7 separate regions of the Homo sapiens genome follow, and all the other regions are linked to region 6. Evidence: fine-mapped expression QTL. A gene starts in region 6. Each other region holds a variant in brackets. All regions are shown on one strand. Distances are between the middles of the regions. Region 1 overlaps LRP6 (LDL receptor related protein 6). Region 2 overlaps LRP6 (LDL receptor related protein 6). Region 3 overlaps BCL2L14 (BCL2 like 14). Region 4 overlaps MANSC1 (MANSC domain containing 1). Region 5 overlaps LRP6 (LDL receptor related protein 6). Region 6 holds the start of LRP6 (LDL receptor related protein 6). Region 7 overlaps LRP6 (LDL receptor related protein 6).

What was found. PIP is the estimated chance that this variant, and not a neighbour inherited with it, causes the effect.
Region 1: its variant is fine-mapped to the expression of LRP6 in whole blood (INTERVAL, PIP 0.99).
Region 2: its variant is fine-mapped to the expression of LRP6 in whole blood (INTERVAL, PIP above 0.99). The same link has a PIP of 0.9 or more in T cells.
Region 3: its variant is fine-mapped to the expression of LRP6 in lung (TOPMed, PIP above 0.99).
Region 4: its variant is fine-mapped to the expression of LRP6 in whole blood (GTEx, PIP 0.95).
Region 5: its variant is fine-mapped to the expression of LRP6 in fibroblasts (GENCORD, PIP 0.95).
Region 7: its variant is fine-mapped to the expression of LRP6 in whole blood (TOPMed, PIP above 0.99).

The regions. Positions count from the first base shown.
Region 1 is chr12:12,177,608-12,181,857 of GRCh38, reverse strand. LRP6 (LDL receptor related protein 6) reads left to right here. Exons shown (of 23, transcript NM_002336.3): 6 at 419-815; 7 at 1,877-2,048. Among named protein-coding and RNA genes, the nearest start is that of MIR1244-4, 68 kb to the right of the region's middle. The variant CTATA/A (reference allele first, on the strand shown) is at 2,447.
Region 2 is chr12:12,207,388-12,211,637 of GRCh38, reverse strand. The region is part of intron 2 of LRP6 (LDL receptor related protein 6); the gene reads left to right. Among named protein-coding and RNA genes, the nearest start is that of LRP6, 58 kb to the left of the region's middle. The variant T/C (reference allele first, on the strand shown) is at 1,948.
Region 3 is chr12:12,093,076-12,097,325 of GRCh38, reverse strand. It overlaps BCL2L14 (BCL2 like 14), which reads right to left. Exons shown (of 6, transcript NM_138723.2): 5 at 2,396-2,662. Among named protein-coding and RNA genes, the nearest start is that of MIR1244-4, 17 kb to the left of the region's middle. The variant T/C (reference allele first, on the strand shown) is at 2,161.
Region 4 is chr12:12,326,631-12,330,855 of GRCh38, reverse strand. MANSC1 (MANSC domain containing 1) reads left to right here. Exons shown (of 4, transcript NM_018050.4): 4 at 1-4,225. The coding sequence ends at 829. Among named protein-coding and RNA genes, the nearest start is that of MANSC1, 21 kb to the left of the region's middle. The variant A/G (reference allele first, on the strand shown) is at 1,976.
Region 5 is chr12:12,230,191-12,234,440 of GRCh38, reverse strand. The region is part of intron 2 of LRP6 (LDL receptor related protein 6); the gene reads left to right. Among named protein-coding and RNA genes, the nearest start is that of LRP6, 35 kb to the left of the region's middle. The variant G/TG (reference allele first, on the strand shown) is at 1,855.
Region 6 is chr12:12,264,449-12,268,698 of GRCh38, reverse strand. LRP6 (LDL receptor related protein 6) reads left to right here and starts at 1,655. Exons shown (of 23, transcript NM_002336.3): 1 at 1,655-2,018. The coding sequence starts at 1,964. RefSeq lists enhancers at 1,425-1,474, 1,012-1,648 and a silencer at 1,655-1,964.
Region 7 is chr12:12,170,599-12,174,848 of GRCh38, reverse strand. All of the region lies in intron 7 of LRP6 (LDL receptor related protein 6), which reads left to right. Among named protein-coding and RNA genes, the nearest start is that of MIR1244-4, 61 kb to the right of the region's middle. RefSeq lists a silencer at 2,592-2,641. The variant C/T (reference allele first, on the strand shown) is at 1,702.

The DNA.
Region 1 (4,250 bases), 87 kb after region 6:
TCCTATCAAGCACAAAGATTCTTGTCCTAAATTTCTTTATCTTTTTTTAAAAAATGCTTCTTGAACAAAGGATCTATATCCTACATTTCCTTCTCCTTTAATACTGAGCTACTTAGCTTCTTAGTCATTACATAGTCATTATTCATTGTACTTTTAAATAGCTGGATTAATTCCAATGAAACCATAGAATGTATCACAACTTAATTTGGAGAGTTAGCCATTAAACAGCTTGACCTCAGAGTAGACTCTTCTATTTCACTGTATTACTTTCCATTTCCACTCTAAAGAGAGTGCACATCCTTTTGTGTTAATTTATGTATATTTTATATTTATTTTTCAGTTCTTGATTCTTTATCTAGAGCAGGTAAATTTTACCTCTGGGTTTCAAAGTATTCTTCATTTCACTTTGTTGTTCTAGGTGCCACAGAATTATTGCTTTTAGCTCGAAGGACAGACTTGAGACGCATTTCTTTGGATACACCAGATTTTACAGACATTGTTCTGCAGTTAGAAGACATCCGTCATGCCATTGCCATAGATTACGATCCTGTGGAAGGCTACATCTACTGGACTGATGATGAAGTGAGGGCCATACGCCGTTCATTTATAGATGGATCTGGCAGTCAGTTTGTGGTCACTGCTCAAATTGCCCATCCTGATGGTATTGCTGTGGACTGGGTTGCACGAAATCTTTATTGGACAGACACTGGCACTGATCGAATAGAAGTGACAAGGCTCAATGGGACCATGAGGAAGATCTTGATTTCAGAGGACTTAGAGGAACCCCGGGCTATTGTGTTAGATCCCATGGTTGGGTAAGAAGCTCTACTGATAGTAAATTCTGTGTGGTGTTTCTGTTTTTCACAGGTTCCTGAAAACATTGACTAAGATAACATGACATATATATTGGTTTCCAGTAAACAGCTCTTTAATGGCTGTCTATTTTAGGATATGGTGATTAGAATACAATCTCAAGTTTAAAAATTGCTAGTTTTTTGCCTTGGATGTCTTAGATATTTTTTCTTTCTAAATTAAGTCCATGTTTGCTGACTTTGGGTGTTGTCTGCAGATTTTGCTCGGATTGCATCATTACCATGAAAAATGTGGGAAGAAATTGTTTTCAGAACTCTTTCCCTTCCCCTAGAAGCTTTAATTCCATTTTCAGTACTTTATAGTAAGAATATAGCTTACTTTTTTTTCCCTAAATACATGAATGACTTGATTTCCAAAACTTTGCCAGCCCATGCAGCTTTACTTCTAGTTTGTTGTTGTTGTTTGTTTTGTTTTGCCATGCCACCCTGATCATAGTCCAGGGAAGTACAACTTTTTACATACTCAACAATTTTGTTACTTTGAGATTTATTCTGAGGACAAGCATAGTGACAAATTACACCTCAGTATATACCAATGCCTTAGAGCCATCTAAACATCCAGGAGCCGTAAGAATCACTTAGCACTGCAGGAAGAAATAGTTATTTTGAGAATTCAGTTTGCCATCTGACTAATACTGCTGGGATAAGCCTTTTGTGTCAGAGAGATGACAAGCCATCAAGGAAAAGAGAGAGAAAGTTCATGGAAAAGGGCACACAAAATATTTAAAAAAAAAAAAAAAAAAAAGAAGTAAAACTGTAATCTCATTATTGGGAGGCATTTTCAGGATTGGCTCTAGAACACACTGATCTGAAAATTTCCCACAATCTTATATATTGCTGGGATAAATGTCTTAAACACCTCTTCATATGTTTTTTTTTTTTTCCCCTTCCTTGGCATTAACTGATGATACCAGTGTAATAGGAGGGATGGATCTCACCTTTAGAATATCTGAAAGTTACATTTTATTATCTATTTTTAGCTCATTTTTTGTATACTTCTCTAGGTACATGTATTGGACTGACTGGGGAGAAATTCCGAAAATTGAGCGAGCAGCTCTGGATGGTTCTGACCGTGTAGTATTGGTTAACACTTCTCTTGGTTGGCCAAATGGTTTAGCCTTGGATTATGATGAAGGCAAAATATACTGGGGAGATGCCAAAACAGACAAGATTGAGGTTTGTTTTTTGCTTTTTCATTTTCAAGCCACTTTTATAATGGGTTTTGAGTCGACAGTATAATGATTTGAGTACAGATATTCTTTTTTCTTAACAGTTGTCTGGGGTGCCAAAGGTACCTTTTACAGAAATTTTACTCAACCTTCATGATTCTAGGGATAATATATTCTCTTCCACATAATCCTAGGATGGAGAGATGTATTGGTATGAGAAATGGCTGCTGATCAGTTTCTAGTCTTAAAAGCTTATGTAAGTGATTTTCCTCATTTTGGGTAAAGCCACTTTCTGAATTTCCTAGGGGCAATTTCTGCAAACCAAAATTATGTAAGATCTATACTGGAAGAACTGGCTGTCCTAAGTTAGGAAAACAAAGCCCACATGTATGTGTATATCTATAT[CTATA/A]TCTATATCTATATCTATATCTATATCTATATCTATATCTATATCTTTTATTGCTGTTAACTGGTGTTGGGGCAGATGGTAGAATATATTAAATATTATGATGGTTACATGCAAACAATTTTAAAATTGATTTATGGGCTGTGTGGGAACAAGACTAATTAACCAAAGCTTGGGAAAAAATATTTACCAAGTGGTAGAGTTAAGTTTGTGGCAATCAAATAGATTATGGTGAAAATAATCAGTGATTAATATTTTATCACAGTGTTTTATTAGTGGCCTATATCCCTGATATTGGTGTTAAGTCTAAAATTAACAACTTTGAATTAGACTTTGCTACAGGTCTTATGGATCACATAGATAGAACAGAGTTAGGTCTCAATTTTCCTTTGGGGGAAACTTCACATACAAGGATGGCTTTAAATGGCTCTTCAGAGAGACACTGTACACATCTAATGGACAGAAAATTCAGACTCTAGAACAGTTGTTTTGGAAAGGTATTCTGTAGAGTGCCCATGACCCTGAGGGAATAATGACTTCAAGGCCTTGCTTCCAAAATGGAAACTTGGAATAGAAGAAACCCCGTTAGTATTCCACCAGGCTCAAATACTGAAAACGGCATCTGTTGTTCTTGCAGCTGGTTTTCATTAATAGAAAATTTTGCATAGACTCCATAAATTTTCTCCCTGTTAGTATTTCACTGCCTCCCACTCTTTTCAAATCCAAGTTGATGTTTGAATCTTTTAACAGTTGGAGTGCATTGCTGATGAGACAAAGGTTATGAGTTTATGTTTCAGACAGGCTTTTAGCTTCATTTTGGTCAGCTTGAATATAGATTGCCTACCTAATCCCATCTAGTTCACACCTGTGGATTATGAACTATACATGAGTGTATAGGTACGAGTATGCTTAGGAAAACAGTTTAAAGCCCATAAGTTTTAGAAGAATATCTGTAGCAAGAAAATTTACGTAAGGGAATGCACCAAATTTATTATCATGTAGGGTTTTTAAAATTCCGTATTTGGTTTTGCCCATCTTAGTCTGCTATAACTGACTGATTAGCCTGAAAATAAAATCATTTGTTTCTTACTGGGAATATTTCAAGTCTTATTTTCCTCACTTTAGGTATAATACTTTAGATACAGAAATTTATTCAGAATAACAAATAGTTCAGAAGGGATTCAGATAAAGACATTACAATTTATGGAGGTTCTGAGTGACCATCTTTAAGAATAAAAATTAATACACTTTATATAACAATATATAACATTGATTAAATAGGATTTATTTTCCTAGTTTGCAGTGAGTGCAGTAGATTTTAAAATTAGAATTCCTTTTCTGGCCTCTTTGTTATGTTTTCTTGAGCTATGCATATATATATATATACATACAGACACATACATACAGTGGTGTCATTGGCTCCGTCACCCCTTCTTTCCTTCTTCCCTGTATGGTACCAGCATCCTTAAACCTGTTTTTAATTTTTTTCATTCATTCGTTCATTCGTTCATTTGTTCCTTCATTCATTCGTTCTTTTAATCTGCAAAGGCTCTGTCACCCATAAATCTTATTTTTAGATCCATCTTTCTCCTTCTAGGTTTGCTGGAACACAACTGCTGTTTGTTTTTTGTCCCCTTTTTATAGATTGATGTTTGTGGTAAATTTACTTCTGTATACATGAAGACCTCCCTTTATAATTTCCCCTGGAGATTCTGATGTCCTAATTCACTATTAGGACATCAGAGCCTTTGTCATTTTATTTACATAGGCACGTCTAGGAAATACAGCATATAGTTATTTATT
Region 2 (4,250 bases), 57 kb after region 6:
CACAAGCAAGTAATTAGGTAGAATTATTATCCCTATTGAGGGACAGGTAAAAACATGGGATGACAAAGCCATCCCTACTCTGGATACGGAAGGAAAAACAGTGAGGTTAGGATGCTTCAGTTCGTCCGTATTTGAACTCATCATCTTACCGTCCCAAACCATGTCTATCTAATTCCATTCCAGACTCTCTTTTTTTGAGACGGAGTGTTGCTCTGTCACCCAGACTGGAGTGCAGTGGCACGATCTCGGCTCATTGCAACCTCCACCTCCCAGGTTCAAGTGATTCTCCTGCCTCAGCCTCCCAAGTAGCTGTGATTACAGGTGCCCACCACCACGCCTAACTAATTTTTGTATTTTTAGTCAAGTTGGGGTTTGGGGTTTCACCATGTTGGCCGGGCTGGTCTCAAACTGCTGACATCATTAGCCGCCCATCTTGGCCTCCCAAAGTGCCGGGATTACAGGTGTGAACCACTGCACCCAGCCCAGACTCTTTTATCTGGTTACTGTATATTCTCTGTAAAAACAACCACAGAAACCAACCTGCTAACATGAATGCTTTCACTATCCTCTTTTATTAATTTCTACTTGTTTTTAAAATATGATACCAACACATGATCAAGTAGAGGGGAAGTGCAGAAGTAGGTCCGATTTCTTCACAATTCTTTTTTTCTTTTCACTTCTATTAGGAAGCAGAAATCCGTAAATTCTTCAAACTCCTCTTCACTTAAAGCCTAATCTACTAACCGGAGTAAGAGAGGAACATGGGGTCAGGAATCAAGTTCAGGGGTTAGTAACAGGAAGGGTGTGAATTTTACACAACACTTTTCTTTTTCACATTAAAATCAGAACTATTTTCACTGGCTGCATTTTCAATTTGATAATGATGTATGTGATTTTTGAAGTTTCCCCCAAAATAAATTTGATGGCAACAAAATGTTTTTGAGGACCTGTGGCTTTTTATAGGTCCTTTCAGAGTTACTTACATGTGTCACATTAATGTTCTTAGAATTAGCATGGCTCAACACTTCTGGATTGACTTAGTTTCATATGCAACTCGTAATTGTGATTTATTTTGCCCTGTTACTGTAGACCAACTTCTTTGACTGTTAATATGCTTTTTACTTTATTTACCTTTTCTAACCAACTTTCACTTATTTTTACACTGATTTTCCTGTTATTCTATTGACTGGTGGTCTGGATACAGAAGGAAAAACAATGAGGTGAGGATGCTTCAATTCATCCATATTTGAACTCATCATCTTGCTCTCCCAAACCACATCTAATTCCATATTATGTTGAATGACACCAATACACACACATTCACATTTGTAAATCTTGGGAGCCATCCTAGTCTATCCTTTCTCATTCCTCTTTCATATTGATCCAGTCCTCAACTTCTGTTGCCTTCATTAGTTCTTATTTGGAATATTTCAGTTTTCTGGCTTTTTCTTGTTTCTTCTTCCTCTAGCCAGTCCCTCAATGTTATTGTCACTGGAGTCCAAGTTTCTTAGTATAGTAAAATAATACACGTGGGATTTCTTTCATTGTCAATGTACCTCACGATATGCTACAGCTCTATGGATCTTCTTGCTGTTTATTGAATATATCATGACTTCATATGCTATGTCCTCTTCCTGGAACACTATTTCCCATTTTGGCAACTGCCTAAGTAAAATACATACTTTCTCTGGTATATTTTATTGACAACTCTTACATTCATTGACTTGATTGGGTGTCACTTCTCTATACTCTCAGAGCCTCCTGTTTATACCTTCCTCAATATACTTGCCACTCCTTGTCTACATTGCGAATTTCGTAAGGGCAATAGTTTTGCCTTGCTTATTTTCATATTCCCTGTATCAGGCATGGTGCTTAGCTCCTAATAGGTGCTCACCGCTTTAATAGGTGTTCAAAACCTTAAGAAAATTGAATAATATATTGGTAACT[T/C]AAAAAATACTTTTTAAAAATTTTCTGTGTCCTAATCGCTTTTTCGGTTACATTTGTAATGAGCTTTTTAATTTAAAAGTTAATGAAAATGTTTAGTATTTATAGATGAAATCTATTCCTTTATATTTTAAATATTTGCACAAATGAAGGCACATCTGTAATCTATTTAAAAATGCTAATTTTCGTCAAGTTCTCATCTGACAAATGCCTTAGTTTCACTTATTGTAGTTGGAATCTTTATCTGGGTCTTATCCTTGAAAAAACATGACTTGATTTATTTTTTAGGGTTGAATAATGAAGGGATTATCCATTAGCTTTGGTACATAGTGGCATGCAAATACTTTTATTCATTACTAAAATCTTGTTAGGTTGACTCACTCATTTGTAACATTTTATTTCACCATAAACTAGACACTGAGTTACAAAGTTAAATGCTTAGATTAGTTACAGTTAGGAAACCTACCTAAATTATATTGTACAAGAAAGACAATAGCCCTTATTGCATTTTCTGTCTTTATAGTGTGCAAATTGCTTCTGGTCAGCCCAGCCTGTGATGGCAACATTTCAAACTTTGTATCACGTAATCTCAAGTAATGCATGTTGCACACACGGCGCAGAGTATAGATTAGTAGATATTGCAGTGAGAGTAACTTCTTATTTCTCTACACTTGTTTGTTTAAAGATACTGGTAGTTTTCATTTTATGCATTAATAGAGAAAAGATGGGAGGTGGCTAATGAAGTGTGCTGTGGACTTGTTTTTAACTGTATTACTCTATCAAGATGGAAATATCAATTGATTTGTGTATTAAAGATATCCTGAGGAGAAATCTAGTTCATATATTATAATAGACATAGGCACACAAAACCATTTCACTGTTTCTGGCTGTCCCTATGCTTAGGTTATTAACCTTTTGTACTTCTTTCTCTTCTTGTAGCATCTCATGTGTCTTCCTTTACCCATTTCAGTGTGCACTGAGTTGGGGGTTAGAGGAGAAATTGAAAATGGAAAGCACAAGGTCTGGATTCATCTTTATTTAAAAAAGAATACGTGCAATGTGCCAGTCATTGTGATGTGGTAGTGACACCTAGTCTTTACCTTTGAGTTCTTTATAGTTTATCTACAAACTCTGATAAGTACTATAGTATATAACAAAACCTGCCAAGAGCTCAGAAGAGGGAATAACTTTGCCTTAGTAAGCTGGGAAAGGTTTCTAAGAAAAGTTACCTTTGAATTAACTTCTTGAAATAGTTTATGTTTCTTATTCACGTTTTAAGCAACTTTACTGAGTTAGAATTTACATGCAAAAAATTCATATTTTTTTGTTGATTGTTAAATGGGCTTTGATAAATACACCTAAGACAAACGTTCATTACTCTACTCCAGAAGGTGCCTTAAGCCCCTTTACAGTCAATCCCTTACTCCTCCCCAGTAACTGTGAATCTGGTTTTATCATCATAGATTAGTCTTTTTGATTTTACATCTATAGCTTCATATAATGGGATCACGTAGTAGGTACTCTTTTATGTGTGGTTTCTTTTGTTCAACATAATTTTAAAAAGTCATCCTTGACATTGATAAGTAGTTCTTTTATGTTGCTGAATAGTATTCCATTGTATGAATATATTATATTGACTGGATTCTGGATTCTGACCGCTCCCTGGGCTTGTTGCCATTGTTGTGTGTTTTTGTTTAATGACTTTCCTGGATTACTTCTGTGGTCTGTTTTCCTTTTAAAATATTTCTTATGCCTGGCTTTCTGGGGGATTGCCTCTGTGTCACTGTTATCTTAGTGGTCAGCTAATGATTGCTTAAAGGTTGTTCCTGAACACCAGCAAGTTAGTGTTACCCCATTTTCCTGTGGACCTGTTTATGGTTTGGAGAATGTCTTAAAATTTTAGGCAATTTCAAATTTGACCCATGTTCAGCCAGAGACTAGCTTGCAAGTGTTCTTTCTGGTGTAGCGTTACACATGCAGACAGCCTTCCTGACTACTAAGCATGAATATCCACTTAAGGCTCTTCTTGGCAGTCTTTTTCCTAGGATCTTCCTGTTAGATTTCTGGCTAGTTTGCTATTTTGTTGCTTGCCCCCACCAGAGTCAGTTAGATAATGGCCCTCGTGATGCCTGCCACTGAAAGCGTTATTATTATTAATATTATTATTATTATTTTTTTGACGGAATCTCAAAAGTGCGGTGGTGCAATCTTGGCTCACTGCATCCTCTGCCTCCCAGGTTCAGGCGATTCCCCTGCCTCAGCCTCCCCTGCCTCAGCCTCCTGAGTAGCTGGGACTACAGGTGCAC
Region 3 (4,250 bases), 170 kb after region 6:
TTCCTTATCCATTCATCATTCATCAGTTGATGGACATTTGGGTTGCTTCCACTTTTTGGCTAATGGAAGCTATGAACATTCATGTACAAATTTTTGTATGAAAATATGTCTTCAACTTTCTTGGGTATATATCCAGGAGTGGAACTGGTAACTTTATTTTTTTTAATTTTTTTTATTTTTTGAGACAGAGTCTCGCTCTCTCTCCCAGGCTGGAGTGCAGTGGCGCGATCTTGGCTCACTGCAAGCTCCGCCTCCCAGGTTTACACCATTCTCCTACCTCAGCCCCCCTGAGTAGCTGGGACTACAGGCACCTGCCACCATGCCCGGCTAATTTTTTTGTATTTTTAGTAGAGACGGGGTTTCACCGTGTTAGCCAGGATGGTCTCGATCTCCTGACCTCGTGATCCACCCGCCTCGGCCTCCCAAAGTGCTGGGATTACAGGCGTGAGCCACTGCGCCCGGCCCCTGGAATTGGTAACTTCATAGTTAACATTTTTGGGAACTCCCAAGTGGTTTTCCAAAGGGACTGCACCATTTTACAATCCAACCAGCAACATAAAAGGTTCCAATTTCTCCACATCCTCACCGACGTCAATGCTTTTCTTTTTCATTTTAGCCACTGTAGTGGATAGAGCTCAATGTTGCTTTGATTTGCATTTTCCTACTGTTGAAATGAAGATGTCAAACAAGCGTCTTTTCATGTGCTTTTAGCCATTTATATATATTCTTTGGAGAAATGTCTATTCAAATCCATTGCTCATTTGAAAATTGGGTTATTTGACATTTTATTGTTCAATTATAATAGTTCATTATGTATTTAGATATGTCTTTTATTAGAGATTTTATTTGCAAGTATTTTTCCCCATTCTGTGGGTTGTTTTTTTTTTTTTTTCACATTCTTGGTGGTGGTGTTCTTGGAAGCACAAAACAAAATCCAATGTATCTATTCTTTCTTTTGTTGCTTGTGCTTTTGGTGTAGAACCACTGCTTTTTAATAGCATATTTATGGTATTTTAGCTACATTAGTGGGTTAAACAGATTTTTGAGAGCTAGCCTGTGAACCCAATTGATAATTATAATTTCTCTGAGAAAATATATTAAGAGGACTAACAATGATTTTTAAAATGAATGCTTGAAACATAGTCAATTGGGAATTTGATCATCTTTTGTATATTATTATGGTGCAAACATGAAGTGCTGGAGATTAGAGACTGTGCAGCCTTTGAGCTGGAAGGGTCAGGAGAGGCTTTGGGGCAGATGAGGGCTCAAGGGGGTTGTTGGGGTGAAGGAATCCTGGAAAGAAGAATAGGTAGAACTAAAATAATGTTGAGGAACCTGTCCTCCTTTTAGAATAAGCTAAGGCAGCTTAAGTTTAGAATACTTAAGAATGGCCTTGGTTGTTCAGATCAGCCACTTAGGGTTATCAAACTTGGTGCAAAAGTGGAAAATAGAAAGGAACTCAATGTACAGAAACTGAAGACCGTGGCAGCCACTGAAGACCATGGCGGGCACTTCAGACCCTTGGGCAAGATCAGCTGCACTTTCCTTCCATCAGCAAAGAGACCAAGGCTGTGTGGAGGTCCCAGGGTCACTCCAGCCATGCCTAGAGCCGACTCAATCCTCCTGCTGGCCCCTGGACCATTCTAGTGGAAAGAGAACTAAGGATAATGTGGGATGAAGGTCTGTCCGCCTAGGAATGCCTAGGCCTGTTGAGAGTTAAAGTTGTGGGGTAGTACATTTTGACACGGTGGACCTTATGTAGCTGTTTGAACATGGCAGTCTTAAGGAGACCTGAGGAACTGGGGATGAGGGATGGGAGAGGGTTTGAGGCAAAAGGGAAAGAGGTCTGTTTTGACTGATACCAGGTAATTGAAAATAGATGAAAGTTTAACTGTTGGCTTTTTATTTGGTATCAAAATGTCACCCTCAAAATGGCTGGGTCAAAGCAGCAATGACAAAATGCCATGAACCCTGAGTCTCTGCATGAGGCTTAGTCTCCGTGACCTCTAAGTATCTGCAAGTGTGAGGAACTGTCTGCCTGCCCTTGTCTCCCTGCCAGACTTCCGTTGCCTGCAAAATTTGTGAAAACAGAAATTACGTCTATCTAAACATTTCTTATCTCAGCATCTCCTCATTTCCTGTTCCATCTGACCAGTCCCT[T/C]TCCATCCACACATACCCTGCATACCCTTGGAGAGCTCAGTAAATATTTATTGATGATGAAGATAATCACTAAAAATATGTTCCCATCAATGGGATCTATCTCTGGCCACTCAAGTGTCCTAAACTCATGAGAACTGCTTCATAGATGTGTTCCCTTCATTTAAAAAAAAAAAAAAAATCCATCCCATCTCTTCTGAGTTCTGAGAAAATTTGTTTTTAAATAGGATACGCTTACCCATCCACCGTGCTGCTGGATCCATGGCGAGAAGTTCTCTTTCAGGTACTTGGTGCCAAAGCCCAGGACCCTGTTCATCGGGTGGTTGTCAATAGCTGTGAGCTTGGCCGTGACGTCTATTACAAGGGCAGCCTTAAAGCCCTGAGCTTTGACCTCTGATTCTCCCCTGGGGTCCACACCCATTAGGACCTGGTCTGTGATGGTCTTGAAAACAGAGTAGGACAGCCCATCCTGGAAGTGGCCCATCAAAGCCTTATCTTTCTTCAGCTGTGTACAAAAGAATAAGCACTCAGTACAGTAGCTTGGCTCCACGAGGCAGACAGAAGTTCATTCTTTAGCTCAAATGCAGGCCATCAAACCATCCTGTGGAAAACCCTGGATGCTGGTGTCAACCAAGGGAATGGGGATGAAGGCAGTGTCCTGCAGAACCAGAATGGGCATGTACTGCTCGGTGAATTCATTTCATCAGCACAAATACATGTATAAAATGGAACAGTCAGTTCATTTGACATTTAACAAATATTTCCTGAGCACTTATAATGGGCAGGTAGTATGGATGACTGAGATGCGGGTCCTCACTCAAAGGGCTCACAGTCTAGTGGGAATTGCAGAAAAATGTGATGTCCTTTGCTAGAAGTAGTGTAAGGGACAGGATCTGAAGCTTAGGAATCACTGTCTTGGCTCAAACCCCTGGGTCCACCTCTTACTTAGCTATGCAATCTTGGGGAAATTAACCTCTCAGATTCAGTTTGTCATCTCTAAACTAGGATGGTGATAGTATTGATACTATAGGGTAATTGTTTTCTTTCTTTTTTTTTTTTTTAAGACAGGGTTTCACTCCCATTGCCCAGGCTGGAGTGCAGTGGTGTGGTCTCAGCTCACTGCAACCTCTGCCTCCTGGGCTCAAGTGATTCTCTTGCCTCAGCCTCCCAAGTAGATGGGACTACAGGTGCATGCCACCACACCTGGCTAATTTTTTTCTATTTTTTTGTAGAGATAGAGTTTCGCCATGTTGCCCACTCCTGGGCTTAAGCGATCCACCCACCTCAGCCTCCCCAAAGTGTTGGGATTACAGGCATGAGTCCCTGCACCCAGTCTTCATTTTCTTTTCTTTTCTTTCTTTCTTTTTTTTTTTTCTGAGATGGAGTCTCACTCTCTTGCCCAGACTGGAGTGCAGAGGCGCGATCTCAGCTCACTGCAACCTCCGCCTCCCAGGTTCAAGCAACTCTCCTGTCTCAGCCTCCCAAGTAGCTGGGATTACTGGCACACACCACCACACCCGGCTAATTTTTGTATTTTTAGTAGAGACAGGGTTTCATCATGTTGGTAAGGCTGGTCTTGAACTCCTAACCTTAGGTGATCCACCTGCCTCGGCCTCCCAAAGTGCTGGGATTACAGGTGTGGGCCACTGTGCCCGTACCCAGCCTTCATTTTCTTAAGAAACTTTTATTATTATTGTTTTTTAGGGACAAGGCTTACTATATTGCCCAGGCTGGTCTCAAACTCCTGGCCTCAAGCGATCCTCCCACCTCGGCCTCCCCAGGAGCTGGGATTACAAGTGTGAGCCACTGTGCTTGGCCCTATACTATAGGGTAGTTGAACACTTTATAGTGCTGGACATAGAAGAGGTGCTTTGGAAATGCGAGTCATTTTTCAGGATGCTACGGGAGCATGGAGGTCAGGGAAGACTCCCTTGCATGCAATGTTCACTTAAAAAAACTCCAATTCATTGATTTCTTTCCCATTATTCTACCCTATTGATTTTACCTCCCGGCCTTCCCTTGAACCTGGTATCTCTCTGCTTTACCTCCTTTGAACTACCACGCCTTTAAAACAAAATCAATGCTGCCTCTTC
Region 4 (4,225 bases), 62 kb before region 6:
TCACACAGATTATTCAAAGCCCACCGATATCTCATGGAGAGACACACTTTCTCAGAAGTTTGGATCCTCAGATCACTTGGAGAAACTATTTAAGATGGATGAAGCAAGTGCCCAGCTCCTTGCTTATAAGGAAAAAGGCCATTCTCAGAGTTCACAATTTTCCTCTGATCAAGAAATAGCTCATCTGCTGCCTGAAAATGTGAGTGCGCTCCCAGCTACGGTGGCAGTTGCTTCTCCACATACCACCTCGGCTACTCCAAAGCCCGCCACCCTTCTACCCACCAATGCTTCAGTGACACCTTCTGGGACTTCCCAGCCACAGCTGGCCACCACAGCTCCACCTGTAACCACTGTCACTTCTCAGCCTCCCACGACCCTCATTTCTACAGTTTTTACACGGGCTGCGGCTACACTCCAAGCAATGGCTACAACAGCAGTTCTGACTACCACCTTTCAGGCACCTACGGACTCGAAAGGCAGCTTAGAAACCATACCGTTTACAGAAATCTCCAACCTAACTTTGAACACAGGGAATGTGTATAACCCTACTGCACTTTCTATGTCAAATGTGGAGTCTTCCACTATGAATAAAACTGCTTCCTGGGAAGGTAGGGAGGCCAGTCCAGGCAGTTCCTCCCAGGGCAGTGTTCCAGAAAATCAGTACGGCCTTCCATTTGAAAAATGGCTTCTTATCGGGTCCCTGCTCTTTGGTGTCCTGTTCCTGGTGATAGGCCTCGTCCTCCTGGGTAGAATCCTCTCGGAATCACTCCGCAGGAAACGTTACTCAAGACTGGATTATTTGATCAATGGGATCTATGTGGACATCTAAGGATGGAACTCGGTGTCTCTTAATTCATTTAGTAACCAGAAGCCCAAATGCAATGAGTTTCTGCTGACTTGCTAGTCTTAGCAGGAGGTTGTATTTTGAAGACAGGAAAATGCCCCCTTCTGCTTTCCTTTTTTTTTTTTGGAGACAGAGTCTTGCTTTGTTGCCCAGGCTGGAGTGCAGTAGCACGATCTCGGCTCTCACCGCAACCTCCGTCTCCTGGGTTCAAGCGATTCTCCTGCCTCAGCCTCCTAAGTATCTGGGATTACAGGCATGTGCCACCACACCTGGGTGATTTTTGTATTTTTAGTAGAGACGGGGTTTCACCATGTTGGTCAGGCTGGTCTCAAACTCCTGACCTAGTGATCCACCCTCCTCGGCCTCCCAAAGTGCTGGGATTACAGGCATGAGCCACCACAGCTGGCCCCCTTCTGTTTTATGTTTGGTTTTTGAGAAGGAATGAAGTGGGAACCAAATTAGGTAATTTTGGGTAATCTGTCTCTAAAATATTAGCTAAAAACAAAGCTCTATGTAAAGTAATAAAGTATAATTGCCATATAAATTTCAAAATTCAACTGGCTTTTATGCAAAGAAACAGGTTAGGACATCTAGGTTCCAATTCATTCACATTCTTGGTTCCAGATAAAATCAACTGTTTATATCAATTTCTAATGGATTTGCTTTTCTTTTTATATGGATTCCTTTAAAACTTATTCCAGATGTAGTTCCTTCCAATTAAATATTTGAATAAATCTTTTGTTACTCAGTAGTGTTCTCATAAGTAGCATGTCCAGCTGGATAACTTTCCATTTATTTCCACTAGCAAAATGATTATGTGGTGAAAATATGCGTTCCACGTTAAAATGACAACCCCCCCTTTTTCCCATCAGTGAGCAAAGAGCTTCACTTGGGAGAATCTAGCGGAATGTTAGCCCACATGGAGACAATGATAAGTCAGTTCTGATAAATGGCCATATCCACTTGGGATCTGTTCTAGTTAACTTGTGTGTGTGTGTGTGTGTGTGTGTGTGTGTGTGTGTGTGTGACAGAGTCTTGCTCTGTCACCCAGGCTAGAGTGCAGTGGCGCGATCTCGGCTCACTGCCAGCTCCGCCTCCTGGGTTCCCGCCATTCTCCTGCCTCAGCCTCCC[A/G]AGTAGCTGGGACTACAGGCGCCCGCCAACACGCCCAGCTAATTTTTTATATTTTTAGTAAAGACGGGGTTTCACTGTGTTAGTCAGGATGGTCTCGATCTCCTGACCTTGTGATCCGCCCGCCTCGGCCTCCCAAAGTGCTGGGATTACAGGCGTGAGCCACCGTGCCCGGCCTCTAGTTAACTTTTTAAAGAAGTATTATAGACATTTTCTAAACTTGTACTAAGTTAAAAATGTACCACTATTATTTTATATCCTTACTTAAATTGACCAGCAATCAGTCTAAGCTTAATTTAGAACAACATTGGAAATAATAACTAGCACAGGCCAGGCGCGGTGGCTCACGCCTGTAATCCCAGCACTTTGGGAGGCCGAGATGGGCAAATCACGAGGTCAGGAGATCGAGACCATCCTGGCTAACACGGTGAAACCCCGCCTCTACTAAAAATACAAAAAATTAGCCGGGCGTGGTGGCGGGCGCCTGTAGTTCCAGCTACTTGGGAGGCTGAGGCAGGAGAGTAGTTTGAATCCAGGAGGCGGAGGTTGCGGTGAGCCAGATTGCACCATTGCGCTCCAGCCTGGGCAACAGAGCCAGACTCCGTCTCAAAAATAATAATAATAATAACTAGCACTAACATGATGCTACAATTTTTACTGGTTACCAATTAAAATTTCTGAGAAAGGCTTTTAATAAAGTTTTCCAGACAAGTTATAGGTGAGGTAACAAAGAGTCCAGAAGTCCCCTGGGTCAGTTTGATACCTCTTTCCTCTGGACTTCAATTTGCTTATCTGCAAAACAGGAAATTTGATCCCTTCCAAGTGTCACCAGAGTTTTTAAAGATAAAAATGGAATTCAGATGCGAACTTAATACAGTGAGCACTAGAGGGCAGTAGCTGGTTAATAAGTACAGCAATTAAGACAAATGCAGGAAATGACAGAAAAGGCTTTTCTTCTCCTTCCTCCTCACCTCTTCCTTCCTCCTCACCTCCTTCCCCTCTGCTCTTCTGGTACCCCTCCCCCATTTCCCTGGTTTACACTAAGTTCATAAAGTACATTAAGAGGAAAGCTGGTCTATTGAAAATACTACTTTTCTTATATTTTCCAACTTAACAGCTTGACACAAATCTCCAAGGGGTTTACATAAGCTTTAAGTAGGCTGAATAAATAAAACCTTGAGTCAATTTAACTTAACAAGTATTTATTGAATATCCACATGTAGGCCAGAATCAGATTAGTAACCAGGTGCCTTGGAATTTTAAAATTTCTCCTCTCTTTATTAATGGATTTAGCGAGTGGAAATCAGGCTTTCTGTGATGGTTTATAAAGGTATTTTCCTGGCTCTCTTGGAGTTCTCTGTCCACCTTGCTGCAGTCTTTGTTGTGATGGGGAGACCACATGGGAGCGGTCCAGATGAGTGATGCTACGGGCCCAAACTGTTAGTGGCCGTGAGGATATAGGTTGTAGGGGACATCTGGAGTGGAAAGAGTGCTCTTCTCACACAGCTCTCTCTACTTACTGCCCCTAGGATGGTGGGTGCAACTGTGGCAAGGGCAGTCAGGGTAGGGGAATCCCTTAGAGGAATTCAGCAGTGACTAGTCTGGTTAGCCTTTCCCACAAGGCCCATTGAGTTATGAGCCCCCTCCTTTGGTTTGTAGAAAGAGAAGGTAGCAGCCTAGAACAGGTGAGAAGATGAGGTAGGTCCTTCTGCTCAAACATCCTCTCTCCGTATTTTACCAACACGATACTGACCTAGGTTAAAAAGCTACTCTTGGCCAGGCGTGGTGGCTCACGCCTGTAATCCCAGCACTTTGGGAGTCCAAGGTGGGTGGATCACCTGAGGTCAGGAGTTCTAGACCAGCCTGGCCAACATGGTGAAACCCCATCTCTACAGAAATACAAAAATTAGCCAGGCATGGTGGCAGACACCTGTAATCCCAGCTACTTGGGAGGCTGAGGTAGGATAATTGCTTGAGGCCGGGAGGGGGCGGTTGCAGTGAGCCAAGATCGCTCCATTGCACTCCAGCCTAGGCGACAGAGCAAGACTCTATCTCAAAAAAATAAAATAAAATAAAATAAAAATAAGCTACTCTTAGCCAGGCACATAGTGGCTCACATCTGTAATCTCAGCCCTTTGGGAGACTGAGGTGGGAGGATCACTTGAGCCCAGGAGGTCGAGGCTGCAGTGAGCCATGATCACGCCACTGCACTCCAGCCTGGGCGACAGAACGAGAGCCCATCTCAAAAAAAAA
Region 5 (4,250 bases), 34 kb after region 6:
TCTCACTCTGTCGCCCAGGCTGGAGTGTAGTGGCACGATCTGGGCTCACTGCAACCTCCGCCTTCCGGGTCCAAGTGATTCTTTGGCCTCAGCCTCTCAAGTAGCTGGGACTACAGGCATGTGCCATCATGCCTTGCTAATTTTTTTTTTTTTGAGATGGAGTTTCGCTCTTGTTGCCCACGCTAAAGTGTAATGGTGCGATCTTGGCTCACGGCAACCTCCGCCTCCTGGGTTAAAGCAATTCTCCTTCCTCAGCCTCCCGAGTAGCTGGGACTACATGCATTCACCACCACGTCTGGCTAATTTTGTATTTTTAGTAGAGACGGAGTTTCTCCATGTTGGTCAGGCTGGTCTCAAACTCCTGACCTTGTGATCCGCCTGCCTCGGCCTCCCAAAGTGCCGGAATTACAGGCATGAGCCACCGTGCCCGGCCAAAACTTAACATTTTGAATGTCATTCCATATCATTTCATAGAGATCTTCCTCATTGTTTTTTGCCAGTGCATAGTATACCATTGTGTGAGTGTACCATAGTTTATTCAACTACTCTCTATGTGTAGGCTTTTAGGCTGGTTTTTTTTTTAATTAGCTGAGATATTTTAAAGCAGATTCACACATCGATATCTCACTTGTAAATACTTTATTTTCCATCTCTAAAAAATATTTTTTCTAGAATCATAATGCCACTGTCTTTCACACAACTTGCGATGAACAATTCTTTAATGTTATAAATTAGTCTGTTCATACTCAGATATCTGTGTCTCAGAAATGTTGCTTTATAGTTGGTTGTTTGAAATCAGAGTCCAAACATTTGGTTTACAAGTTGTATGTGGTTTTTCTAGAGCAGTTCAGTTGGTCCTCCCCCTTTCCCTTTTTATCTCTCACCTTGTTGACTTAATTGAAAAGACTGGGTCAGCTGTCCTATAGAATATCCCAGATTTTTTATTTTCATTCATTCATTCATTTATTTTTTTGAGATGGAGTCTGACTCTGTTGCCCAGGCTGGAGTGCAGTGGCATGATCTTGGCTCACTGCAACCTCCGCCTCCCGGGTTCACGCCATTCTCCTGTCTCAGCCTCTTGAGTAGCTGGGACTATAAGCACCCACCACCATGCCCGGCTAATTTTTTTGTATTTTTAGTAGAGGCGGGGTTTCAGCGCATTAGCCAGGATGGTCTCGATCTCCTGACCTTGTGATCCACCCACCTTGGCTTCCCAAAGTGCTGGGATTACAAGCATGAGCCACCGCGCCCAGACAATTTTTTTTTCTAACAAATTATTGTGGTATTTGACTTATTTTTATCCCCCTGTGTTACTTGGAAAGAAAGATTTGAAGACTTGATTAGAGACAGATTTAACATTTTGACATGAATGCCTCATAGGTAGTACTGAGTACTTTGTATTTGTCACATCAGAAGTTGTCCTATATTGTAGTGTTGCTAAGATTATTCAGTAGGTTCAGATGGTCAGATTTTCTGAGCAGTTGGGATGTTAGGTGCATCTTTTGTTATAATATTTGGTTTTTGACTCTAGTGCCTGAAAGTTACTATCTTTATTTGTAAGTTGAGCCCTTTCCTCTTGTGTCCTTAAGTTATTTGTGGGATGATCCTTTTGTATTTTGCCAAATACCTAGTTCCTTATTAACCACTCATCTATTGATTATTTTAGCATGCACTGAGGATTGCTTCTTGTATTTTCTTATTAGAGATATGTTATTGTTTGATGATGTCTTTTCTTGTGTCATATATTTTATTCCATCTTTTATGTGTTTTCATCATTTAAATATTTATAATCTCTATCAAGTTGTTCAGTTTTCTGAAGTTCTTAAAAATCTACTTCTGTTTTTTTTTTTTTTT[G/TG]CACCTGCTGGATTCTTGCTTAAGGTTAAATGTTTCCTCGAGTGTTTTATATAGTTTTGGACTGTGAACAGATCTTCAGAGAGGCTGTCCTTGAGAATTCTGAATGACTTGGGGGCATATTCCTCCAGAGAGATTTTGGGTTGCTTTTGCCAAGTTCACTGGAAGTGTTTCCAGTGACCACTTAAATTTTTTTTTTTTTTTTTGAGACAGCGTCTCACTCTGTCGCCCAGGCTGGAGTGCAGTGGTACGATCTCGGCTCACTGCAGGCTCTGCCTCCTGGGTTCTCGACACTCTTCTGCCTCAGCCTCCCAATAACCTGGGACTACAGGCACCCGCCACCATGCCCGGCTAATTTTTTGTATTTTTTAGTAGAGACAGGGTTTCACCATGTTAGCCAGGATGGTCTTGATCTCCTGACCTCGTGATCTGCCCACCTTGGTCTCCTAAAGTGCTGGGATTACAGTCGTGAGCCACCGTGCCCAGCCGACCACTTAACTATTTAAAGTATAATTTATATACAGTAAATTGCACAGATCTCAAGTGTGAAGTTTGAGTTTTGTTTTTGTTTTTGTTTTTGTTTTTTTTTTTGAGGCAGGGTCTCGCTTCGTCAGTGGCGCAGTCTCAGCTCACTGCAACCTTTGCCTCCCAAGCTCAAGCAATCCTCCCATCTTAGCCTCCTAAGTAGCTAGGACTGTAGGTGTGTGCCACCACATCCGGCTAATTTTCATATCTTTTGTAGAGATGGGGTTTCACCATGTTGCTCAGGATGGACTTGAATTCCTGGGCTCAAGTGATCTGCCCATCTCAGCCTCCCAAAGTGTTGGGCTTACAGGCATGAGCCACTGCGCTGCTCAGCATGAGTTTTTTTTGTTGTTGTTTAAACAAAAACAAAACAAAAAAAAAACCGTTTCCTGGGCTGATCTAAAAACTTCTGGGACTACAGGCATGAGCCACTGTGCCCGGCTTAGTTTGAGTTTTGGTAAATGAGTTATCAAATGTTATCATTGCCTTATTCAAGCAGAAGTCATTTTTTATATTTAATTTTTGAAGTTGGGAGTTTCTGTACTATGTGGATAGAATAAATCAAACTCTAAACCTATGTAGGGGCAGTCTTATGATTATGAAATCTTTGGTGATCTTTCCTACCTTTTCAGAGCCTAGGGCAAGACAAAAAAGGCTTCCTGTGTCCCTCTGCCAGTGGGCAGATCTTTCTACTTCATTGTTCTTTGAGAGTCCATGCTTTGTGCAGGAATCTTACTTCTAACACTGTGTCTTGTGTGCCAAGATCTTCTCTGGCTTGTCATTGGAACAGAAGTTTCTCAGTTTCTGAAATCAGAAAATCCAGGGTCGTCATAGCATCAGGTCAAACATGTACTGCTTTTTTTTTTTTTTTTTTTTTTTTTTTTGAGATGGAGTCTTGCTCTGTCATCCAGGCTAGAGTGTAGTGTCACGATCTCGGCTTGCTGCAACCTCCGCCACCCAGGTTCAAGCCATTCTCCTGCCTCAGCCTCCCAAGTAGCTGGGATTACAGGCGCCTGCCATCACACCCGGCTAATTTTTGTATTTTTAGTAGAGACGGGGTTTTACCATATTGGCCAGGCTGGTCGCGAACTCCTGACCTTGTGATCTGCCCACCTTGGCTTCCCAAAGTGCTGGGATTACAGGCGTGAGCCACTGCGCCTGGCCATGTACTGCTTTTTACTTTCCTGTTCATTTTTGGTCTCAGGAGATTTCTCCTACTTTCTTGATAAGTTCTACATTTAAAGGGGTGTTTGTATATTTTATTTTGTGTATATGTACAAATCAAATAAAAAGATTCACCAGTAGTTCTAGATGTTTTGTAAAAGAAGTATTTTCTGGTTGTCTTTTTACCATATTACCAGAATAGAAACTCTGACTTACATGTTTTAAAATATTGTCTATTCTTTCATGTACCATGTGCATGATAGTTGAGGATTATTCATACTTGCTAATATGTATATTAATGACTTATTTTAATTATGGATAGGATTATATAAGTAACTTCAAGGATCATGACATGATTTATGATCTAGTATAGATCTGGGTCACTTAGTTTTTATAGCTCAAGTCTCAATGTCTTAATTAGTCACCTGTGTATGTAATTACATCTTGTAAAGGGTGAAATTTCATCCCTTTAGTCTAGATTTATTGAAACTGAACATTTTCATTATGGGAAGCCGAATTCAGATTGAGTATACTTACCAAATTAGGGCTTGTGAATATTTTGGAAGATTTGTTGTTTTATCCTTACCTAATCAAATAAATTAAATGCTTTGGATTGTAATAAAAATGTATAAAGTAAATTTGTATAAAATGGCTTGTGTGTCTAGTCTTATTATCAGTTTGAGATATTTTTATTTTCCTGGCATAAGAAA
Region 6 (4,250 bases):
ACCTGCGCCTCCTGGATTCAAGCCATTCTCCTGCCTCTGCCTCCTGAGCAGCTGGGATGACAGGCGTGTGCCACCATGCCCGGCTAATTTTTTTTGTATTTTTAGTAGAGACGGGGGTTTCACCATGTTGGACCAGGCTGGTCTCGAACTCCTGACCTCGTGATCTGTCCGCCTCGGCCTCCCAAAGTGCTGGGATTACAGGCCTGAGCCACCCGCCCCCGGCCCAGTTTCCTGCTTTGAGGAAGCCAGAATACAAAACTCACTTGGTTCTTAGAAGCAGGTCATTTAAATAAACGGTGACTAGACCTCAGGTGAATTTGGGAGAAAGTGATTTGGCTGTTTCTGCTGTCCATCTACTTACAAACCTGCAGCACCTTTGGTTCAGCGCGCATTTCTTGGAAGGAGCGGAGTGGCTTAAGTCAGAGACCTGGATTGGGCTGAGGTACTGCTATTCATTACTTGAGTGGCCCTGGGTAAGTCATTAACCTCTCAGGTTCTCATTTTGCTCCTCTGTGCAATAAAGAATAAGTAACAAAACCTGCCTTTCCCCAGGGTAGTTTTGAGTGTCAAATATGATAACTTGTGTTCAAGCACTAGTGAACTCCAATGTCACTGAGGTACTTGTTAACATTGTGGTAGCAGCTCCACTTTCTTGCCCATCTGCCTCCAGGTAAGGGCGTGTGACAGCTGGGCAGGATGCATCTGATGGCTCCATTAGGGTTAACTGTTGGAGCGCCTCTGCCCAGACGAAAGCCTGGCAGGTGATTTCAGGGGGCGTCTGGGCCATTACTCCTGAATGCCCAATGCACTGGGAGTAGCAGAGGCTGTGCACAGTCTGAGATTCTAGGGAATCTTTTCCTTCTCAAGCTGAGAATTGATAATCGAAGCATGCCAAACATTCGTTATTATATGCAACTTGTAAAATCCTAAATAGTCTTGTCCAATTGTCCCTTTGCTCTTAGGTTTTGAGGCATTTATCTTGGAATTTTATCTGCCAGTTTAGAAATCTTTAGCTGGTCGGGCTTAATTCTGGGGGCAGTTTGTATTTCTGGGAAGGCGGGAGAAAAATGACAATCTCAGTTTTGAATTGGCGTTTTAATATCGTTCACCAGATCCACGCTGAAAGCCGGTGTAAACAGCGTTCAAAAATTCCGCCCTCCCAAAAAAAGGATGCTGAAACCGATTTCCAACCCCGAAGACGGAGCTCATCACCCCGCAACGGGATCCGCCGTGGCTCCCCGCGCGTGCACCGCGGCTGGGCAGTCTCAGGTGGCTGGGGGCGCGAGACCGGAGCCCCACCTGGCCCTGCCGGCGGCGGCCGCACAAAGAGCGGGGCAGACGGCTGCCCGGCCGAGCCGCAGAAAGTAGTCCCGACCACGCCGGCTCCAATGTTGTTCAACGCCGCCTCACGCCCTCCGCGGGGAGGGCCGAAGCGGCCGGTCCGGGAAAGAATCCCGCTGGAATGCGCCACCGGGAGGAGGCTTTCCCTCCCAGTTCGCCTCTGCTAGCCCAGAACCTCTCCCAGGGTCTCAGGCAGAGGCTGTGCGTGCGGTTGCCGACTCCCTTCCCTGGCCGTACAGGAGGCAGTACCGGGAGAAGGGGCTCGTTGCGCGCAGGGACACGGTCGCGGCGACCCTAGGAGGCGGTGCCGACCGTATCCCTGCGCCGCTGCGCGAGGCAGAGGCTGAATGAGGAGCTGCGCGGGGGAAGCGGGGCGCCGGGGGAGGAGGCGGCGGGATGGAAGCAGACGCTGGCGTCGCGCGAGCCCGGGGCCGAGCGGCGCGGTAGAGAGGGCGGCGGCGGCGCGCGCGGAACCTTGACGTGCCCCTTTCTTTCTTCTCTCGCTGGGAAGCTGGGAAGTATGAGCGTGCAGCCCTGCCGCTGCGGCGGCCGCCCCGGCTCCTCGCCTCCCCCACTTCTGGCCACCCCTCGCCGGTGAGAGAAGAGAACGCGAGAAGGGAAGATGGGGGCCGTCCTGAGGAGCCTCCTGGCCTGCAGCTTCTGTGTGCTCCTGAGAGGTGGGAAGAGTGGGGGCACTGGAAAGTTGGTGGGGTTCGGGGGGAGGTGGCCTTGTTGTATGTGTCTAGGGGGAGGGGAGGGACGGAGGAAGGGAGAAGGGGAGAGGAGCGGGGAGAGGCCTGGTCGTGGGGAGGGGGAGAGAAAGGGGCCCGGGAGCAGGGGCTGCGTGCACCGCCCGGCCACAATGCGGACCTGGCCTGGCTTCCCAGACCTTCCCCGGACACATCGGAGCTTCGATCCCGGCTGCTGGTCTTAGGGAACCCTTGGCACCCCATGCTGTCGGGATGACTGAGTGTCTGTGTGCCTCTCTCTGCCTGGGGTCTTCCAGGGAAAAGGGTCTTTGTACGTATTTTGGCTTTTAAAATGTTTGAGTCCGAGATGCTTTAAGGTTGGCCTTATCCATCGAAGCCCCGCCACCCACTCCCCACCCCGTTTCGGTGTTTCTTAGGTGAACTTTTAAAGCCCTCTTGCTATTTTTTCCAGGCCTTGTTACAGGTAATGATTGGCTTCCGTTTGGGATATAATGACCCTGGGTGAGAGCGCAGTTGGAAAGTGACTCCGGGGTTATAGGTCGAGCGTTTCAGCATTGGGAGCCTTCTGAGCTTCAGCCCATAATAAAATAAAACATTGCCCTTGTAACCTCTGGTATTCACGGCTTGCCCCTATTTTCGGAGTATGCAAGTGTACAGTTGGCACTAAGTAGGGAAATTCATCCTCGTGTGAAGAGGAGCCGGTCCTGGGACCAAAATGATAATTTGCTCTGCACCCCTGGGGACTGCTTGGCACTTTGGTAAATTGCATAGGCTGTTCGAGATAATTTGCTCTGGGAATCGCTTGAATTCGATGGCACTATGATGTTTTGAATTGGACTGCAAAGCTGACACATGCTCTGTGACTTTTGTGACAGTTCACAAAGATTTTTGACTGGCCCGTCGGCAGCTCTTCTCAAACTATTTAGTGTTGAACTTGAGATGGCTGTGATGGCTGTGGAGCATTTACCAGCAGAGGAATTTAAGTACTGCTCGATACGGTGGCTTGTAGTTTTGGTTTGGTAAAGTTCTTACTGGCGTTCATAGTAAGTTCTTTTCAGGCATGTGACCGCTGGTCGCTGGAGATTTTTAGGTGTTAACAAGCTAAACTTTTGTTAAGTTCTCCAAACTAATTTAAGTTTACAGAACACTAATAGTAACTAATAGTCTGTGACAGGTGTATATTTTTGCGTGTACTGTGTATATGTATTTCGGATGAGAATGATTGAGTTTTTTTTTGGAGGAGGAGAAATACTTTCTTCAGTTACTCTGTAGTAATGCAGCATTGTGTTTGCATGTTATATTACTTGATACTCTAAGCATATTACAAAGTTTTCCCACATGTAAACCCCGGAAAGGTAGTGTTCATTAGATTTTTGTGGCAGAAATTTTAATGAAGTGTTACGTACTGGAGAGGTTTCATAAGTATATACTTATTTTATTATTGGCATACTCTATTGAAAGGGGTTTTGCTGTAGCTGTTAGAAACAACTATATTTGACATAAGAATATGTATGTATTTTAAGACATAAGGTTAATAGGGCTGACAAATATGAGAACCAGCTGATTGGTTAGAGTCGTGGGAAAACTTATAACTTGGGATGTTTCTGGTTGTCTAGTTGTATTTCTTGGAGGAGAAGCGTGTGATGTAAATGCCGTTTGTTTAACACCAGCTTTGAGACCAGAGCTGGGTTTGTTCATTATTGGAATTTAGATAGGTTGCACTTATTTATGTAACAAGACCTGGAAGAGGTAATAGTTTAAATTGTCTCGTTTCCACTAGCAAAGTTTTCAGAAGTGGAGCTCTCGTTTTAAATGTGGCGAAATATGGTGTAAGGTGGTCTTCTAATATGTAACAGTACTGTACTTAGCTGTGAGTACATATTATTTGAAGTAAAACTGTCTTTTGATGTAAAATATTTTTGTTCATAATTTAGAATTAATTCATTCTTTGAGAATGTCATCCTCTGTTATAGTAAAGATATTTAGTCAACCTTGGACTCCAAGGAGAAAAATCTGATTGATTTGTTGCATTTAGGTCATTTTTTTCCCCCACAAAGAATTGGGGCTTTAACATTGGCTGGGTGTGATGGGGTATGTGAGAGTCTGGGAGACCTTCTGTCCTGTAGCCCTGTTGAATTAGTAGCAGAAAGCCAGGGAATACTGTTAGTGCTGTGTCCCTATCTCTATCATCACATGACA
Region 7 (4,250 bases), 94 kb after region 6:
AACCTTTAGTACCAAGAACTTTTGAATAAAGAAGGTATTATTTTGTATGATGTGTACTGAAAACTTGGCATTTGCTGAATGTTCTGTTTCATATTCTAAGCCTGAAATTGCAGGGCTACATTTTCCTATGATAACTTCCTTTATTTCATCAATACCCTAATAAGGAAATTTGTTTCCCAAGTATTCAAACTTCTTTTTTAAAGGAGTTTCTTTGTCTGGTATCTTAGCCTTTGTACTGTTAAAAACATATAGGAACCTGTTGATAATTTTTTTTACTGTTGGTTTGTAAGATTAATTCCTCATTAAGAAATTATAATAAATCTATTGTTGAGATAAGGCTGTTCTGATAATATGACAAGTATCAACAAGTACTTCCTTTTGAATCTTTGCCAATTTGTAACATTGTGTTTCTTAAAATTGATTATACCTTCAGTTTGAGGCTGGGCACGGTGGCTCACGCCTGTAATCCAGCACTTTGAGAGTCTGAGGTGTGCTGATCACTGGAGGCCAGGAGTTCGAGACCAGCCTGGCCAACATGGTGAAACCCCGTCTCTACTAAAAATACAAAAATTAGCCAAACGTGGTGGCATGCGCCTGTAATCCCAGCTATTTAGGAGGCTGAGGCAGGAAAATTGCTTGAACCCGGGTGGCGGAGGTTGCAGTGAGCCGAGATCAGGCCACTGCACTCCAGCATGGACAACAGAGCAAGACTCTGCTTAAAAAAAAAAAAGAAAGATTGATTATACTTCAGTTTGAGAAATATTCAAAATAACTAATTTAAATACCTAAATATTTGCCCATTTGTGCTACTTTACCACACAACATGTACTGTATGTTAGTATGGATATATATTTCTCCCCAAATCTTCATAACATATGATCAGAGAAGAATGATATTGATAAACTCCATCATTAGATTCCTCAACTCAGCAGAGCACCTGGAGTTTGGACTTAATGTTCATTGAGTTGTAAACCTGGTGCTGGCCTGTTGTGTTATTTTGTGTCTGGGGTACATCGCATAACAATGAAATTTGTGAATTCCTATTTGAAAATTGCTAGTTGATTATTGGGCACAGTGGCTCACACTTGTAATCCTATCACTTTGGAAGGGTTGAGGTGGGAGGATCCCTGGATCCCTTGAGGCTAGGAGTTTGAAACCAGCCTGGGTAATATAGTGAGATCCCCGGCTCTACAGAAAATAAAAATTAGCTGGGCGTGGTAGTGCACTCCTGGAGTCCCAGCTACTTGGGAGGCTGAAGTGGGAAGATCACTTGAGCCCAGGAGTTTGAGACAAGCCTGGGCAACATGGCAAAACCCCATCTCTATAAAAAATGCAAAAATTAGCTAGGCATTGTGGTGTGCAACTGTAGTCCCAGCTACCCTGGAGGCTGAGGTGGGAGGATCACCTGAGTCTGGGAGGCAGAGGTTGCAGCGAGCTGAGATCATGCCACTGAACTCTAGCTTGGGCAACAGAGCAAGACCCTGTCCCCCCAAAAACAAAAGAATTTATTTTAGCTGTGCTTAAAAAGAATGAGAGCAGAGAGGGCAGTTTTCCCTTGTTGACATGTTAATCTTTTCCCTATTAGGTTTTTGGGGCCTCAGGACAGTGAGGCTTTCAGAAGTGTCTTATGAAGCAGTTGAGTATAATTGACCAGGATGTTGACATTCGTCATCATGATGCCTTCATCTGGAACTCTGTTCT[C/T]AATTTTTTCGTTTCCTGGAGTAATTCAGGTTTTAGAAAGCTTTGGTCACAGTAGCAATTTTTAGCTCTAACAGAAAAAGAGCATAGTAATTGCAAATCTTTAATATTCAATGCCTGATTCCTTGCAAAAAATATTATAAAACTACCCAGAGTAACTATGATACTTCAATTCTTTTCATATTTAAAATCACTTATATGTACTCAGACTTAATGTATCTTGAAGTAGGTTAAAAGGCTTTGAATATAGCACTGTAATTGCCCCTACCTCTCTCTCAAACAGGTGTGTGGTGTCCCTTTACTTCACCTACTGGGTCCAAAGCATTTCTTTATACTTGTCATCTCAGTGAGATTTGGCATGATTGAAATGTTATTTCCGTGGATAAATATTCTGTGTTTTAAAATCCCATTTGTGTGAAATTATATTTTATGTTCTATGAAGTTGTATCAGAAAAAATATGCTCCCCAACCCTCAGTCATATCTGTCTTCCTTATGTATAAGCTTTTAATTCACTGCTTGTTTTGGATATTGTCTGGAACATTAGAAGAGGAGTGGTTCATTTTGGGCATAATTTGAGTTTCTCTTCTAGAACTTTATAGCATTCCAACTCTAGCACATTTTATGGTGGTTGCTTGGTTGTCCTCCTGCATCTGTTCCTTGAACTTGTCTTGTCAAGTGAAGTTGCATAGCAGCAATTTTGGTAGTAGACTGGCTGCATTCCAAGATTGCATGGGCAGTCCTGTCTTGACATTTAATGAGCTGATGAAATGACTCAAAAACTGGATGTGATGTCTGTAGAAGATTTGCCATTACTTCTTCTTTGTGCAGATAATGTTATGGTTAACCCACGTCTATTTCCTCTTGTAGCCTATATTCTCAGTGTGGTTTAGAATATTTCAGAATGTTAAACCAATGTGCCACAGTGTGGTCAAAGCAGCTGAAACCACTGGAGACTCTGGTTCAGATTTGGAGTTAGATTTTAGAAGTGACAGAAGCCTAATTTCAGTTTAACTAATTAAACCACTCTGAGGTAATACAGTGAAGTACACCCTTAAGAGTTGTCAGATTTAATTAACATTGGCACAGTTTTTAAAGCATAAGTGTAATCTTTTGGAATTGCCTAAAGTGGTTCATTTGTTCTGGGTTCAGAATATACAAACAAGCTTTTGCCAGGATTTGTGTTATTTTAAACATAAGGAGCTTAAACTGTATTTATAGACCTAGTAACCTGTCCAAAACTTTTACAGGAATATGAGAAATGGAATAGTGATTTCTTTAAGACAGAGCAACATGTTCTTATTTCACTATGGTTAACTTGTGCCCGGTAGAAAAAGATTGTGTGGCTGGTACAAGAGAAATACTTAGTGGAGAAGTCAGTTTTCTAATAGTGTCACCTCTACAAAAGTAATGGAAGGAAACATTTCAGAAATTGGACTTTGTGTGAAGGAAAATACATTATCTGTGTGTTTAGATGCAAAGTCTCACAGTCAGATATTGTTTAAGCTGGTGATCCCTTAATCTCTTCGGAGGATCCTTATAATTCCTTTCTATACCATACTAACAAAAATGATAATAGCGTTTATTTATTTATTTATTTATTTATTTATTTATTTATTTTATTTTTTTTTGAGACTGAGTTTCACTCTGTCGCCCAGGCTGGAGTGCAGTGGCACAGTCTCGGTGCACTGCAAGCTCCACCTCCCGGGTTCACGCCATCCTCCTGCCTCAACCTCCTGAGTAGCTGGGACTACGGGCACCCGCCACCACGCCTGGCTAGTTTTTTGTGTGTGTGTTTTTAGTAGAGATGGAGTTTCACCATGTTAGCCAGGATGGTCTTGATCTCCTGACCTGGTGATCCGCCCTCCTTGGCCTCCCAAAGTGCTGGGATTACAGGCGTGAGCCACCGCGCTCGGCCAATAATAGCATTTATTAATAACAGCAGTTATCATCATCATTATTATTTGTGTGTCCTTGGACTTGCTTCTTAGCTTTTTCTCTTCATTTTTTAAAAATTATGGAAAATGTCAGAGTATAGAAAGCAGAGTAGAGACGACCATGAACTACCTAGTTTTAACCATTGTTAGTACATGGCTGATCTAGACTGCAGCGTGTCTTAAGCAGGAGGGCTAAGGAGATGGCAGAAATGGGTTTTCTAATAATATATCTATGGTCTTAATACTTCCTTTTTGACATAGCCTAAAATAAATGAAAGAATCAGGTCTTTGTTGCTCCTTCTAACTAACCTCTTAGCTAGTGTTTTATATGTAAACTTGCAAATGTGACAAGAAGAAAAAAAGTAGTTTTTTTCATCTAAGACGTGTGTGTGTGTGTGTGTGTGTGTGTGTGTGTGTGTGTGTGAAGTAATTTTAACTTCATATTAGAATTAAATAGTATATAGCTTGGAAGAAAGAAAGACCAAATAAAAGACATTTGTTTGAAGCTTTAGTGAGCCTGATCGATCTGAGGTAAGCCTGAAGGTGACAGGTATAGAGGGGACAGTGATGTAAACTAAAAAAGGAACCAATTAATTTTATTATAGGCTGTATGTAGT